Linked DNA regions of Homo sapiens. The protein of the gene in region 1 interacts with the protein of each later gene in a biochemical or structural test. Each region holds a gene or a part of one and is shown on either strand. Other genes may lie near its edges.

Region 1 (4,118 bases):
CTTTTGGAGTACAAGTGGTTTTTTGTTACATGGATGAATTATATGGTGGTGAATTCTGAGATTTTAGTCACCCAAGTAATGTACATTGTACCTAATGTGTAGTTTTTGATTCCTAGCCCCCTTTCACCCTCCCCTTTCTGAGTCTCTAAAGTCCATTATATCACTTCATACCTATGTCTTTGCATACTCATAGCTTAGCTTCCACTTACACAGTGAGAACATACGGCTTTTGGTTTTCCACCCCTGTATTACTTCACTTAGAAAAATGGCCTCCAGCTTCATCCAAGTTGCTGCAAAAGACATTATTTTGTTCCTTTTAATGGCTGAGTAGTATTCCATGGTTTATATATACCACATTTTCTTTATCCACTCAGTTGATGGGCACTTAGATTGGTTCCACATCTTTGCAGTTGTGAGTTGTGCTGCTATAAATATACATGTGCAAAAGTCTTTTTCATATAATGACTTTCTTTCCTTTGGGTAGATACCCAGCAGTGGAATTTCTGGATTGAATGGTAGATCTTTTTTAGCTCTTCAAGGAGTCTCCATACTGTTTTCTGTAGAGGCTGTATAGTAGTGTAATAAGCGGTCTCTTTTCCCCACATCCACACCAACATCTATTGTTTTTTGACTTTTTTTTTTTTTTTTTTTGAGATGGAGTCTCGCTCTCGTTGCCAGGCTGGAGTGCAATGGCGTGATCTCAGCTCACCCCAACCTCCGCCTCCCGGATTCAAGCAATTCTCCTGACTCAGCCTCCCAAGTAGCTGGGATTACAGTCACACGCCACCATGCCCAGCTAATTTTGTTATTTTTGGTAGAGACGGGTTTCTCCATGTTGGTCAGGCTGGTTTCAAACTCCCAACCTCAGGTGATCGCCCGTCTGGGCCTCCCAAAGTGCTGGGATTACAGATGGGGGCTACCGCGCCCGGCCCATTTTTTGACTTTTTAAGAATAACCATTCCTGTAGGAGCACGGTGGTATCTCATTGTGGTTAATTTGCATTTCCCTGATGATTAATGATGTTGAATTATTAATGATTATTTCATGTTTTTTGGCCATTTGTGTATCTTTTGAGAAATGTCTATTCATGTCCTTTGCTCAGTTTTTAATGCAATTGTTTTTTTTTCTTTGTGATTTGAGTTCCTTGTAGATTCTGGATACTAGTCCTTTGTTGGATGCATAGTTTGCAAATATTTTCTCCCATTCTGTGGGTGGTCTGTTTACTCTGTTGATTATTTGTTTTGCTGTGCCGAAGCTTTTTAGTTTAATTAGGTCCCATCTATTTATTTTTGTTTTTGTTGCGTTTGTTTTTGGGGTCTTAGTCATGAATTTTTTGCCTAGGCCAGTGTTTAGAAGACTGTTTCCAATGTTCTAGAATTTTTATAGTTTCAGGTCTTATATTTAAATCTTTTATCAACTTGAGTTGATTTTTGCATTGGATGATAGTTAGGGATCCAGTTTCATTCTTCATGTGGCTTGCCAGTTTTCCCAGCATCATTTATTGAATAGGATGTCCATTCCCCAATTTTTGTTTTTGTGTGCTTTGTCAAAGAGCAGTTGGCTGTATGTATTTGGCTTTATTTCTGAGTTCTCTATTTTGTTCCATTGGTCTATGTGCCTACTTTTAAACCAGTACCATGCTGTTGTGGTAGCTATAGGCTTGTAGTGTATTTGAAGTCTGGTAATGTGATGTCTCCAGATTTGTCTTTTTGCTTAGAATTGCTTTGGCTATTCAGGCTGTTTTTTGTTCCATATTAATTTTAGGATTGTTTTTTCTAATTCTGTGAAAAATGATCTTGGTATTTTGATGGGAATCGCATTGAATCTGTAGATTGCTTTGGGCAGTATGGTCATTTTCACAATATTGATTCTTTCAATCCATGAGCATGGGATGAGTTTCCATTTATGTCATCTGTGATTTCTTTCAGCAGTATTTTGTAGTTCTCCTTGTAGAGATCTGTCATCTCCTTGGTGAAGCATATTCCTAGGTATTCTATTTATTTTTTATTTTTGCAGCTATTATAAAAGGGATTGAGCTCTTGATTTGATTCTCAGCTTGGACGTTTTTGGTATATAGCAGTGCTACTGATTTGTGTACATTGATTTTGTAACCTGAGACTTTACCGATTTCATTTATCAAATCTAAGAGTCTGTTGGAGTCTTTAGGATTTCCTTGGTATATAGTCATAATATCTGCAAACAGTGATAGTTTGACTTCCTCTTTTCCAATTTGGATACACTTTATTGCTTTCCCCTACTTTCCCTCTGGCTAATACTTCCAGAACTATGTCGAATAGGAGTGGTGAAAGTGGATGTCCTTGTCTTGTTCCTGTTCTCAGGGGGAATGCTTTCAACTTTTCCCCATTCAGTATGATGTTGGCTTTGTCGTCATATATGGCTTTTATTATTTTGAGTTAGGTCCTTTCTATGCCTCATTTGTTGAGTTCTTTATTGTAAAGGATGCTGGATTTTGTTGAATGCTTTTTCTGCATCTGTTGAGATCATATGGTTTTTGTTTTTAATTCTGTTTATGTGATACATCACATTTATTGACTTGCATATGTTAAATCATTCCAGCATCCCTGGGATGACACCTGTCCCTTATTGATGGACATTCACATGGTTTTTAACCTTTTCCTATTACAAAAATGCTGCAGTGAATAGCCTTGTACATATATAATTTTGTCCTTGTGCAAGTATTTCTATAAGGTACATTCCTGGAAATGGAATTGCATTCTAGTCTTTTATATAATTATTTTTCAAAATGTACCAAAATTCACTTTCTTAAAATAGCTTTAATTTTTATTATATACAGATAATCTTTGCCTTATTTTCATTTTTGTTGACATAATTCCTCCAGGCTCTTAAAGGTAAGATTTAAGATAGTAGCTAAAGAATTTAGATATAGGTCTTGTCACTGGAACAATTTCTTGAAACTTAGAAATTTAAATTGCTTATGATGTCTTTGGTACTGTAACTGCATATTGCCTTTCAAATTACTATTAATTTATCTCATAAATTATTTTCAGATTTTTTTTTCCTTTATTTTGACCCTGACCCTTTTGCCCTTGGTCTATCTACTTTTCTTTTTCTTTCTTTTTTTTTTTCTTTTTCCTTGTCTTGTCTTGTCTTTTCTTTCAACTGGAGTGCAATGATGCAAACACGACTCACTGCCGCCTTGACCTCCTGGCCTCAAGCAATTCTCCCACCTCAGCTTCCTGAATAGTTTGGACTACAGGTGGGCGCCGCTGCACTGGGTAATTTTTAAAATATTTTTGTAGGGACGAGGTCTTACTATGTTGCCCAGCATGGTCTTTAACTCCTTGGCTCAAGCAGTCCTCCCACCTTGGCCTCCCAGAGTTTTGGGATTATAGGTGTGAGCCACTGCGCCTGGCCTATCTGACCATTCTTTAGAGCTTTTGCCCCTCCTTTACTCTTTATACAAACCCAGGCTTAGAAAAGAAAAAAGCAAAAAAATTCAGCCTGTCCCTGTTTTTATATCCAGCCCTTTGGGATCCCAAATGATTATTTTATAATTGACTGGGTCAGTTTTCATATCATTTTATGTTTCTTATTGACTTATAGCCTTGATTCAATCTATGTCCGTTTATTCTCAATTCAGCACATTTTTAGCTTCTATCCTGTGTTCCTGTCATAAGGGACACTATATTATCTCATTTTCCTATACTGTGTACTCAAATGGCTGAATACTTAATCTTTCTATCAGCACCTAGGACAGTGCTCATTACACAGTGGACTTTCATAAATGTTGACTTGAGTTGGGTTTATTTGGCATCTGATATAAAAGAAATATGAATCATTTACAGCTGTATTGATGAAAAGTGCCAAAACATATATTTACAAATTTAGAAAATTAGGTGTAGATCCAGAAATCCCAAAGTATTCTGGTATCAGAGTGTGAATCACAGACCTGCAGAATCCATATCACCTGAAAGCTTTAGAAATGCAGAATCTCAGGCCCCATCCTGGAGCTACTGAATTAAAATCTCTATTTTAACACGATCCCTAGGGATTCATATACACATTAAAGTTTGAGGCCAGGTACAGTGGCTCACGCCTGTAATCCCAGCACTTTGGGAGGCTGAGGCAGGCAGATC
Region 2 (2,521 bases), on another chromosome or scaffold:
TGGTAGAGGTTACGGGGTCACAGCAATTCTGTTCATCTGGTGGGCCCCAGGCAGGGTTCCAGCTGCCCCCTTTCCCAGCAAGAAACCCACTGACCTGCCAGAGTTGGTTGGTCCACATGAATTTCCTGCAAGCTCCTAGCACCCTGGGCTGGCCTGGCCTGTGCTAGAACCTGAGGATGAAGAGGAGTGAGGGTAATGGACCAGGGAGAAGTTAAGAGTAAACTGCCTGGGAAGCTCAGGTGGTCTCTCTACATGAGCAGTGAAAGGGATTATTCCAGGGGGAAGGGATAGGCCCTCAGTGCTCTCAATGCCTCAGCAATGTTTTGGGCCCATCCTCATCCCCAATTCTCCTACAAACACACATACCACCCCCAGAGAACCCCTGGCTCCCCTGCACCATAAAGCGACCCCCCTTCACCTGCGACCACTCACAGAAGCCGCCCTCCCTACCCCAGGTGAAAGTGGCCCCTCGGCCAACCCTCAAAGCCCCCTGCGTGTCCTCCCTGTCCTTGCCATCCCACCTTTCTTCATTGCGTCCCCCCATGTGCCAGCCTGACTCCTCCCAACACCACCCCAAATGCCGGGGCACGTCGAATTGTCTTTCTTTCGCCCGATACATAAATGGCCTTATTTTCTGAGCCCGAAAAGGGGACCCATGGTTTGACCATGGGCAGAATATTGGATGGGTACTAGCCAAGGCCTGTTACATGGGGAACACATCCCACAGTCAACAAACACCCGCTCTGAGCAGAGGCTCCTGGCAAGCCCAGCTCACCTCCGGGAAAGAAAGGCGAGTTTTAAACCATGGTCACCTTAGTCAAAGCACAGCCCAAGCCCCTTTATTGGTTGTGAGTTGGAAAGGGTCTGCCGGGGGTACAGAGTGTCCCCAGAGGGGCTGTGGCTGTGAATGCAAGGGATCGCTCTATGGGCTCCTTGGGATGCTGTGCTCAAAGTGATTCTTGGGTAGGGAGCCCTCGGGATCCCAGAGGTTTGTGGTCAGGAAGACTCTCAGATGTCATGGATTCGGAGTCGCGCTGCAGAGGGAAGTTCTGCCATTGAAAAACCAGCCGCATCTCAGATCCCTTCAGAAGAGATGGATTTTCTTCCAGGAGGGTTCCCCCTGCCATGCCATCCATGGCAGCATCCCTAACCGCTCTTTGGGAGGCCTAAGGAGGTAAGAGCCCTCTCTCCCAGCCTCTGTCCTCCCAGCCCTGGAGTCCTTGGGCCCCTTCTATCTGACTCAATCCCAGTGTTGTTTGTCCAGCTGCCCATATTCACCTGGGCATCCCAGCTGCAGGCCCCTGCCCCCTTGTTCCAGCTGTGTCCCACATGGAGAAGGTCCATGTGGACACCAGACAGCCCCCTGGAGTGCAGAGCCCGAGCTGTCACATTGCATTTCCCAGATTTCCTGGAGGTGGTTGGCCTAAAGTGCTAAGTCTCTACAGCCTCCCTCACCTTGTCCTGGCCACACTACACTCTACCTCTCCATTCAGTCAGGTCAAATCTTTAGCAAATCAAAAGAAATTAAATCCCCAGTGGCAGCTCCAGAACCTCCACTGGGTCTAGAACCATTTGGCATCCCTGATGAGGACTCTGGGGTTTTGGGTAAAAGCGTTGGGCTTAGAGTAAGAGGACTTGGTTGAATCTACTACTTTTCATCTTGGACAAGACATCTCATTTTTTTCAAAGCCTCAGTTTCCTCATATGTAAAATGAAGCTGTATGTAAAACAGGGCTAATTTCAGCTTAACTTATATGAAGCCTTCCATACTGTGCCTGGCACACAAGAGAGCCCAGTCTTCTCTCTCCCTTCAGAGCTGTTTATGCAGGCTCCAGTCACAGCTATTCCCGGATCCCTCACTAACCCACCCTGCTGATTCTCTGGCTTCCTGTTAATAACAACAGCAACTCCTTGTGGGGAGTCTATGGTTGGCTCAGTACTGTGCTATCCTTGCATTTGCTCAGTGTTGAAGAACTTGGGATGAGTGAGGTACCCAGCGTTCAACGTGAATTAAAGGCAGAGGGAGAAGGCCAAGCCAGAGCTCTGGGGCATCAGATGGTCCCTTCCAGCCCACGGCCCCAAAGTGAGTTTGTCGGCTACTCAGCTCTGATGTTCTTGGGAGAAAGCCCAGCCCCGGGATGCCTCCTTCCCCAGCCAACCCCAAAGCCTGAGATGAAGAGCAATGGTTTATTGAGTCATGTGGTAATGGCAGGTTGTCTTTAAAAAAAGAAAGAAGCATCAAGGAGAGAAGCCCCACAGGGCAAAGAGAGACATTTCACTCAGAGGCCAAAGTCTGGGGGTTAGAAAGAAGGAAGCTTGACCCAAACAAAGTTTCATTTACAGTATATACAGTCAGGCCTTGGGGGCAGGAGCTGCTGGGGAGCAGAGAGGGACCCTCTATCGCTGGCTTCAGGGGGTGCCTTGGGTCCCTTCAGTAGCTGGTGGGCGTGAGCTGCAGGAAGCACATTTGGCTTGGCAGGAGCTGTCAGGAAGGGGAAGCGGGTTTCCTGCGATTCTGCCT

The links.
Region 2: the proteins of ANXA7 (region 1) and PAX8 form a complex in vitro, tested with the Homo sapiens proteins (one large-scale study listed by BioGRID).

Annotation. Positions count from the first base shown.
Region 1 is NC_000010.11:73,407,315-73,411,432, reverse strand, and holds part of ANXA7 (annexin A7), read left to right. Parts: intron 1-3,114; exon of another isoform or gene 3,115-3,257; intron 3,258-4,118. UniProt on the Homo sapiens protein: Calcium/phospholipid-binding protein which promotes membrane fusion and is involved in exocytosis.
Region 2 is NC_000002.12:113,215,189-113,217,709, forward strand, and holds the end of PAX8 (paired box protein Pax-8), read right to left. Parts: 3' UTR 809-2,521; downstream 1-808. UniProt on the Homo sapiens protein: Transcription factor for the thyroid-specific expression of the genes exclusively expressed in the thyroid cell type, maintaining the functional differentiation of such cells.